Linked DNA regions of Homo sapiens: regions 1 and 3 are each linked to region 2. The links come from fine-mapping of genetic effects on gene expression. A gene starts in region 2. Each other region holds a variant in brackets. All regions are shown on one strand. Distances are between the middles of the regions.

Region 1 (2,794 bases), 180 kb before region 2:
CAGGGCTGGACAGAGGCTGCCCCGCGTGCGGCCAGAACCACAGATCCGCCAGCAGTGGTGCCCAGGTGGCCGTGGAGGAGGGAAGGTCAGTGGGACCCACGAGCTGCCAGCTGGCAACGCAGCACAGACACAGACACACCCGTGAGGACCGCGTGCCCGACCCGTGAGGACAGCACGCCTCTCTACCGCACGAGGCACAGGCCAGAAAGGGCTGCTGCCCAGACCACCCCCCGCCTTGGGGAAAACCCCCGACTGGAAACTTGTTTCGGGAGAACCTGCTTTCCTTTGGGACGCTCCTGCGCTGTGGCCCAGACGATTTCTAGTTTATCGGATTCCATGAACTGCACCTCGCAGGGAATTTTATTTTATAAAGAATTAAAAAGCGGGCCGGGTGTGGTGGCTCATGCCTGTAATCCCAGCGCTTTGGGAGGCCGAGGTGGGCGGATCATGAGGTCAAGAGTTTGAGACCAGCCTGGCCAACATGGTGAAACCCCGTCTCTACTAAGAATACAAACATTAGCCGGGCGTAGCGGCGCCTGCCTGTAATCTCAGCCACTAGGGAGGCTGAGGCAGGAGAATTGCTTGAGCCCGGGAGGCGGAGGTTGCAGTGAGCAGAGATCACGCCACTACACTCCAACGTGGGCGACAGAGCACAGACTCTGTCTCTTAAAAAGCTGGAATACAAATGGCTGTTCTTCAGAATTCAGTTTCAACCAAAACAACACACCCATCACCATACCCCTTGATTTAGCTGAGGGAGGGTGTGGGCTACAGTCCTCCCACATGGTCAGTGGGATAACAGGATAACATCTCATTTGTAGATTATAGAAAAAAGTGTTAGGACCTTTTGTAGTGAACACCGCTTCTTAGGGGCCCCCATCAACACATCCTTCAGTTTTTCCCTCACTTCCTCATTGTGATCAGAAGTGGGCCTCCTCCTTCTGGCTTGGAAATGCCTGGCCTACAGTGTCACTCAGATCTACACATGCTTGTGGTTCTCGGCTGGGGCAGCCTTGCCCCCAGGGACACCTGGCCGTGGTGGAGACATTTCTGGGGCGTGGGGTCTGCTAGCTTTGGATGGGGGGGTGGAGGGGCTGCTGAGTGCACACGACAGTGGCCCACGAGGATGTACATCTGGCCCCAATGTCAGCAGAGCCCGGGTGAGAAGCCTGTTTCACACTCACCAAAAAGTGCCGTCTCTTTGTGGCTTAACTTCTGGGGCAGGAAAATATCATGCCTCTAGGAACAGCTGTGGCTTGGCAGCAGCCTACAAGCACATGTGGCCAGCAAGGTGCTGGAGGGCGGGAGGCTGCTGTGCTGTAACTGGAAGCTGATGCTTTCAGCCAAGTGGTGCCTCCACAGCAGCTGAGGGCGGCTTTGCACCCAGACAACCACATCAGCTGGGCCTGGAGGAAAAGCCCCTGACGCTGCCCAGCTCTCCTCTTCCTCCCCCAGGCCTCACCTTGGCCATCCCAACACAGAACTCTGAAAGAGTTAGATGGCAGCAAGACATGAACTCAAGGGTGCCCTGTGAAGCAGTGTGTGTCACCAACAGCGCCACAGGTGATAACTGCAGTCAACTCACACGGCCTCCTCACTGTCCCCTCTCCCTGCTGTGAGCCGAGAA[A/G]CTGCCTTTCTAAGCTCCCAGCTGGGGCTCCCTGGGTTTAGGGGGTAATGGCAGAACTGGGATAAGGAGTTAGGCCTCAGGATGCCTGGTCCTGCAGAGCACATGGGCCACAGCTGTAAGCTTTATAGGTGAGGAACAAAGCACAGCTATCGTGAATCCAGAATCAGGCACCTTGGTCAGGGCCCCTGAGAAACGCTGACCCATTACTAACCTGTGTCCACGTCCTTTGGAAGCTAGTCCACTGTGGAGCTATCCTGAAACGCATCTCTGGAAAGCCCTCTTATTCCCTTGGTGGCCTGAAGTGGGGCCCCCAGGTGAACTGCCATGATGTGGTTTGGCTTTGTGTCCTCACCCAAATCTCATCTCAAATTATAATCCCCGTGTGTTGGAGGGAGAGCCTGGTGGGAGGTGACTGAATCATGGACGTCCTCCTTGCAGATCTCGTTGACGGTGGGCGAGTGAGTTCTCATGAGATCTGGTTGTTTCAAAGTGTGTAGCATTTTCCCCTTTGCTCTCTCTCTCCTGCAGCCTTGTAAAGAAGGGCCTTGCTTCCCCTTTGCCTTCCGCCATGATTGTAAGTTTCCTGAGGCCTCCCCAGCGATGCTTCCTATGCAGCCTGCAGAACTGTGGCTCGATTAAACCTCTTTTCTTCCTAAATCACCCTGTCTCAGGTAGCTCTTCAGAGCCATGTGAAAATGGACTAACATGTGCGGATAGTTTATTACTACAATTGCTGGTCGTTATTTCCATCAGATTCTGGGGGTGGCAGGCATCCCTGGGATACCAATCTCCTTTTTCAAAGGGCTTTTCACAGGGACCCTTTTCTTCCAAGTGACATCAACGCCATCCCCAGTGAAGCTCCTGTTTCTGATTTCTGTGGAACCCTGTCCTCATGTGACAGGCACATCTCAGCCAAGAACCTGACCAGTGCGAAAGCCTCACTCCTTCAGCAGATCTGCCTCTGGGGCTGGCCACCCTCCACCACTGCAGGCTAAGCCCCATGCCCCCACTTCCTCCCTCCTTTGAGAATGGGTATTCCTATAGAAGCTTTCTGCTCAAAAAGTCCTCAGACCAGACCCATTTAACTCTGATGTATAAAAACATCCACGGCCAGCATAACTTGCGCCTTCTCAAGGTCACGGTCATGAGTGGCATCCACTGCCTCCC
Region 2 (2,655 bases):
CGGTGCATGCGACTTCTCGAACCTGTGATTGACCAGTGACCGCCAGCCTCTATGGAACAATGAAGCCTCTTGTGCAAGACAGTGGCAGGAAACGCTGTGCTTGGGACAGTTTTCTTCCTCTCCTACACACACACACACACACACACACCCTTTTTTTTTTTTTTTTTTGATACAGAGTCTCGCTCTGTCACCCAGGTTGGAGTGCAGTGGCTCGATCTCGGCTCATTGCAACCACCGCCTCCCGGGTTCAAGCGATTCTCCTGCCTCAGCCTCCTGAGTAGCTGGGATCCCAGGCGCCTACCACCACGCCCGGCTAATTTTCGTATTTTTTAGCAGAGACGGGGTTTCACCATGTCGGTCCGGCTGGTCTCAAACTCCTGACCTCGTGATCCGCCCGCCTCGGCCTCCAAAAGTGCTGGGATTACAGGCGTGAGCCACCGCGCCCGGCCACACACCCCTTTTTACACCTAACGCCAGGGATTCCGGTTTCCCCTCCTCTGGTGTAAAACAAAATCAACTTTTCCCCTTCCGAGTCTTCCCTCCTGAGCTCTTCACTTGCTTATCACTGAAGGGGCAAATTCCAGAGGAACCCAAGAAGACCCCGGACTTCTGATCTAATTGGTTACTTTAAGGTAAAAAATAAAAAGATTCCAAACTCCGCTTCTGAATCCCCCAGGGGTGTTAAAGAACAAACACAATTGCTACCTTTTTCTGCAGAAGTGTAACGCTTCCTCCCAATCCCTTAATCTTACAGACACGGCTGCGCGGAAGCCGCATCTGAAGGTTCCTCCCCAGACCCGGGCCCCGGCGGGGTCGAAGTTGGCTCCCTCCGGGCGCCCGGTCCGCCGGGACAGCTCGAACCCCAGCCAGCCTCTCCGAGGGACCCCCAGGGCGCTGCGGGCGGGAAGGGGGCGCCAGGCGGCCGCGGCCAGGGAGCAGGTGGCCGCCCGGGGCTGGGGCCCCGCGCTGTGCCCACCTAGACCCCGTCGGAAGCCCCAGGGTGTCAACTCCGAGGCCCCTCCCCAGCATCCCGCTCGTCCCCGGGGGCGGTCCGAGTCCCAGACATCGGAGACCTCCCGGGACCCCGGGGCTGGACCGGCCACAGGGTCCGGGCTGCGGGGCCGGCCCGCGTCTGTCTGGTCCCCGGGTCCCCCAGCCCGCGCCGGGAGCACTCACGTATCTGTGCACGAGCGTCCGCACGAGGCTGCAGTCCATGGCTCCTCCGGCCGCTCCCGCTCCGCCGTTCAGCGCCCCCGCGCCCGGCTCGGCGCGCCCATGGGCTCCGGGGTACTAGTGCGGCCGCGCCCCCCGCTCCGGTCACGGCCTCGGCGCGCCGGGCGGTGCAGGGGGCGGCCGCGGCCCCTCCGCGCTCATGCCCGGCCCGGCCGGCGAATGCTGGGTCCGCGGCCCCGCGCGTCGGCAGCTGCTCCACTGGCGGCAAGGCTGCTGCTCGGGGCCGCGCGCGCGCGCTCTGGCGCCTTCTCTCTCCCCGTCGGTCCGCCCGCTCGGTTGGGCTCGGCTGGAGCACCCCGGCCGCGGCGGAGCCTGCGCTCTGCTCCTCCCGAGTCTCCTCCTCCCCTGCCCGCCGCCCTCTGGAGCCTCCGGGCCCCGCTGGCTCCTGCCCCTGCTCCGGGCGCGCACGTCACCGGCGCAAGTGAGCATGCGCCCCGCGGCCGCAGCCCCCGCCGGCCCCGCGCCCACACCCGCGCTCGCACCCGCGCGCCGGCCCTGCCCCCTCGCGCCTCCGCCCGGGCCCCAGACCCTGGGGGCAGAGGGCAGAGGGCAGAGGTCAGAGGCCGCGGGGAGGAACCCCCCTGTTGCTTCCGCCTCCCGGGGCGCAGGCGCTGGGCGCGGCGGGGAAGGGACTCGGCACTGGGGAAACCCGGAGTTTCAGCCAGGGTCCCAGGGCTTCCTTCCCGGGTTCCTGCCGGAAAACTTTTCTCCTCCGCCCGGAAGCCTCGATGGGGCAGTGAGATCGCGGGGCGAGGTGGGAGTGTGGGAGGGGGCCGCGGGCAGAGAGCGGGAGTCCGGCTGGGTGGGAGATCTCCTGAGCCGAAGCTGGGTCTCGCCCCAGCGTGGCGCCACCGACCCGCAGGCTTTTCCTGCTCTGCAGATGGAGAGACACAGGGACGCTCCTCAGGTGGCTGCCCTGGGCTGCCAGCCTGTCAGTGGGAGGGGAGGGTGCAGACAAGAGGCCCCTGTTTCCGAAACCCCTCTGTCCCCAAAGCTGCGACAGCAGAAGACACTTAGGCGGCCTGAGGGGTTGGTGAACCACAGAGGAGCTCAGCTTCGCCTGGTCTCCAGCTCCCGGTGGCGGTGGCGTGTCCTTAATGCTGCTGGCTTTGAACTGGACTGAGAACTATTTACCACACAAACACCACCATTTCAATCCCGGAGAATGCCTGTTTTCCCTAGGGTGACCTGGCCGGGGTAACAAACACTTGTTCTCTAATTCCACGGTCAGCCTTGACTTAATTGAGGTACTTGATTTCCAACTTCCTGTCTTGCTGCCACAGATAATCACTGATGAAACCAAACAGGCAACACCTTTTGGTGGCCTGTGGAGAGCGCTGCCCCGTCTGGGTCTTAGGAAGGCAATTGAATATGAATGTTCTCCCGAGTGCTTGTGGAAAAGAGATGGTGTTGGCCACTTTT
Region 3 (2,794 bases), 190 kb before region 2:
AGTGAGTCAGGGCTGGGGCCCCGGCCCCCACTCACTCCCCGTCTTCCTCCCACCTGGGGAGCCTCACACCCTGCAGGAGCAGCCACTGCCAGGGGCCCCCACCCCTCATTTCCCCATTGGGCTTCAGCACTGCCCAGTCCAGGGCTCCACCTCAAGGAGTGATTGGAAATTTCGGGGATGAAACTTGAAAACTTGCATTGTTAATAGAGTCCTGAGGGACCGTGACAGGTGCAGCGGCCCTCTGAGGACAGGCAGGCTTCCCAGTAAAGCAGCAGAGGTGGGTCGTGGTCACTGCCTCTGATTTAGGGTTGAGCTTGAAGGCAGAGGCCAGCTGCTGAAAAGGATGGGGGACCGGGAGCTAAGTCCTCACACCTGCCAAACCCTGCACCTGGGGGGACACTCGGCATCGTCACGTCTTCCCTGGACCCAGAATTCTGCTTGTGCCTAAAACTTGGGAGTGTGTAAAATAAGCAGCTCCACCAATACCAGCATTTCCTGATACAGATGCTACCGTTTCCAGCCAGATTTACCATCCTTAAAAATTATGTAATTCAACCTTTTAAAGTAATGATTAATTTTAAAAAAGGTTTCCATTTACATGAAATAATTTGCCTTTTGCATCAGTCTTTTTTCTCTTATTTGTGTCTCATTTCAGATGACTGTTTAGGTTGAAACATAAAATTAGACATCGGTCATCGCAAATGTACCTGATGTTTAACATCATGCACCGTCAGGACACTCATTAGTGATACCTGAACTGATCACGTTTCATGAAATCCAAACCTTTCACACTGTCTTTCAAAACGGTCATCTCCCAATCCTAAGGCCAGGGCCCTGAGGCACCCCCGCCCCGGCTGGGGACACTCCGTACCTGGACTCTCTCTGTTGCTGTTGGCCACAGCTGCCGGCACAGGACTTTCTTGAGGACGTCGGGAAGGAGGCTGATGGTCACCAGCAGCACGATGGCCAGCCAGGCGGGCCCGCTGGACAGCATCTGGATGAACACGTAGTACATCCTCTGGTAGTTGAGGAACGGCCTGAGGGGCAGGGAAGAGAAGCCGCTGGTGAGGCATGTACTCCCTGGGGCTGGCCTCTCTACTCACTGGAGAGGCCGTCTGTTCAGGGAGTTTACACTTTTGTCAGTGAGAGTTGCTTGGCAAGCCACGGAGCCTGCTCTGAATTTATCATATAAAAAATGAACACTGAACCTCCCGGTAATGCTGGGGTAAGAGGAACGGGAGAAGGAATTCTATGAAGTCATCTCAAATGGGACATAGAAGTCTCTGAAGTTCAGTTTCACAGAAGCAAAAAAAAAAAAAACAAAAAACAAAACACAAAGGGATTGAAATAGGGATGTTTTTCTATCTTGAAGTCTCGGATGGGAAGGACGTCCCGAGCACTGGTCGTCAGTACAGAGCAAGCAATGACTTCTCTCCCCAGAAAGAGGATGATTCAAAGACGTCTGCGTCAGCCTCCATGAGGGAGGCTGGCAAGGATGCAGGGACCAGTGACCCGCAGCCAGCCCGAGCCCACAGGTCCACGTCTATACGTGCCTTCCGGTAACGTTTCCTGATCGCCTTTCACATCCCAGGCACTACGGATGGTGGCAGAGACACAGAGATAGGGCCCCAGCTCCAGGAAGCACAGTGAAACTGGTGTGTGGACAACAGGAGGGAAACGGAAGCAGGGCATGGTGGGTAACGGGAGGGACACG[C/G]AGCTGCTGGCAGACCTGGGATGGGGCTGGGGGCACCCACGTGGTGCTGGTGGCGGGCAGGAGGATGGGGTCTCATCACCAAGCGGTGGTGACATGGTGAGCTCCCAGCACATCAAAGACGTGGGGTCAATGTTTTAGGAAACAATGTGAGAGGCTGTGGTTCTACCAAGGCTGACGGGCTGTGGCTCCTTGGCTACAAAGCCCAGGAGCTGGTCAGAGAGGTTTGGGATGGAATCTTCCTCTTACAGAGCCATCGCCTTCAGGGCTGTTAGAATGGCCGGGCTCTCCAGAGCCGGGCTGGGCTCTCTAGAGCTAAGCAGGTTTCTCTGGGGCTGACAGGGTGCCTGACACCCTCCAAGCTGGGCTGTCATCTCTGAGACTGTGTAATGCAACTTGGGGCCACCAGGGGCCGCTGGCTGAACGAGAGAATCCGGAGGGACTCTTCCTGGGCTGAGAGTCCCGCCCAGGTCAGGGGCCCTGAGGGATCCTGAGTGGGTTGCTGGCTTTCCCTAGGCCGGCTACTGACCCCAGGTCTGCAGAGGGCTGTGGCAGAGGCTGCTGCGCTGGGGCTGAGACTGGGACCTGGCCCTGGGCCCATACCACTCAGCGTCGTTTCCTGGCTTACAGCGACAGTCTCTAGACTGACCACCCTGCCTATGTCGCTCTCACCAGCTCAACACGCAGCCACCGTGGGGTTTTTAAAAGAGCCACTCAACTCTGCTGTGCTCTGCCTCGACTGACCACGACAGCCTCGAGCCAGGATCCTCACGGCCGGCGGTCCAGGAGGCCACCATGCCTGCTCTGCAGCCTGGTCCGGGCCCCTCTCCGCTGGCCACGGCTCCCACTCACGGAGGACCTCCTCCCGCCCGGGCCTGCGTGCCTGCTGCTCTCCCCCAAACCAGAGGCTCCCCGATGAGTCAGGCTGCTGCGGGCAAGGTCCAGCCCCACCATGCCTGGGCCCCATCTTGCTGCGGGGCGTGAGGATGGAGTGAGACAGGACCTGTCGAATGCCTGGCCAGTGCCTCGTTGTGGGAGGCGGTTACCAGCTGGGACTTGCTGTGATGATGGCGCTCTTCTTCC

Which allele goes with the higher level. Positions count from the first base shown, and alleles are read on the strand shown. Sizes are in standard deviations (SD) of each study's normalised expression. Not every link is listed here.
As copies of G replace C in region 3, the expression in whole blood of the gene that starts at base 1,594 in region 2 goes down (small effect, 0.24 SD a copy in GTEx).

What was found.
Region 1: its variant is fine-mapped to the expression of ATP11A in T cells (TOPMed, PIP above 0.99). The same link has a PIP of 0.9 or more in blood mononuclear cells.
Region 3: its variant is fine-mapped to the expression of ATP11A in whole blood (TOPMed, PIP above 0.99).

The regions. Positions count from the first base shown.
Region 1 is chr13:112,868,268-112,871,061 of GRCh38, reverse strand. All of the region lies in intron 25 of ATP11A (ATPase phospholipid transporting 11A), which reads right to left. Among named protein-coding and RNA genes, the nearest start is that of MCF2L-AS1, 99 kb to the left of the region's middle. The variant A/G (reference allele first, on the strand shown) is at 1,628.
Region 2 is chr13:112,688,977-112,691,631 of GRCh38, reverse strand. It overlaps ATP11A (ATPase phospholipid transporting 11A), which reads right to left and starts at 1,594. Exons shown (of 30, transcript NM_015205.3): 1 at 1,177-1,594. The coding sequence starts at 1,215. LOC102725228 (a long non-coding RNA gene) reads left to right here and starts at 1,817. Exons shown (of 2, transcript NR_187633.1): 1 at 1,817-1,969. RefSeq lists silencers at 802-1,041, 1,062-1,991 and an enhancer at 2,240-2,655.
Region 3 is chr13:112,874,019-112,876,812 of GRCh38, reverse strand. It overlaps ATP11A (ATPase phospholipid transporting 11A), which reads right to left. Exons shown (of 30, transcript NM_015205.3): 28 at 872-1,037. Among named protein-coding and RNA genes, the nearest start is that of MCF2L-AS1, 93 kb to the left of the region's middle. RefSeq lists a silencer at 1,392-1,581. The variant C/G (reference allele first, on the strand shown) is at 1,715.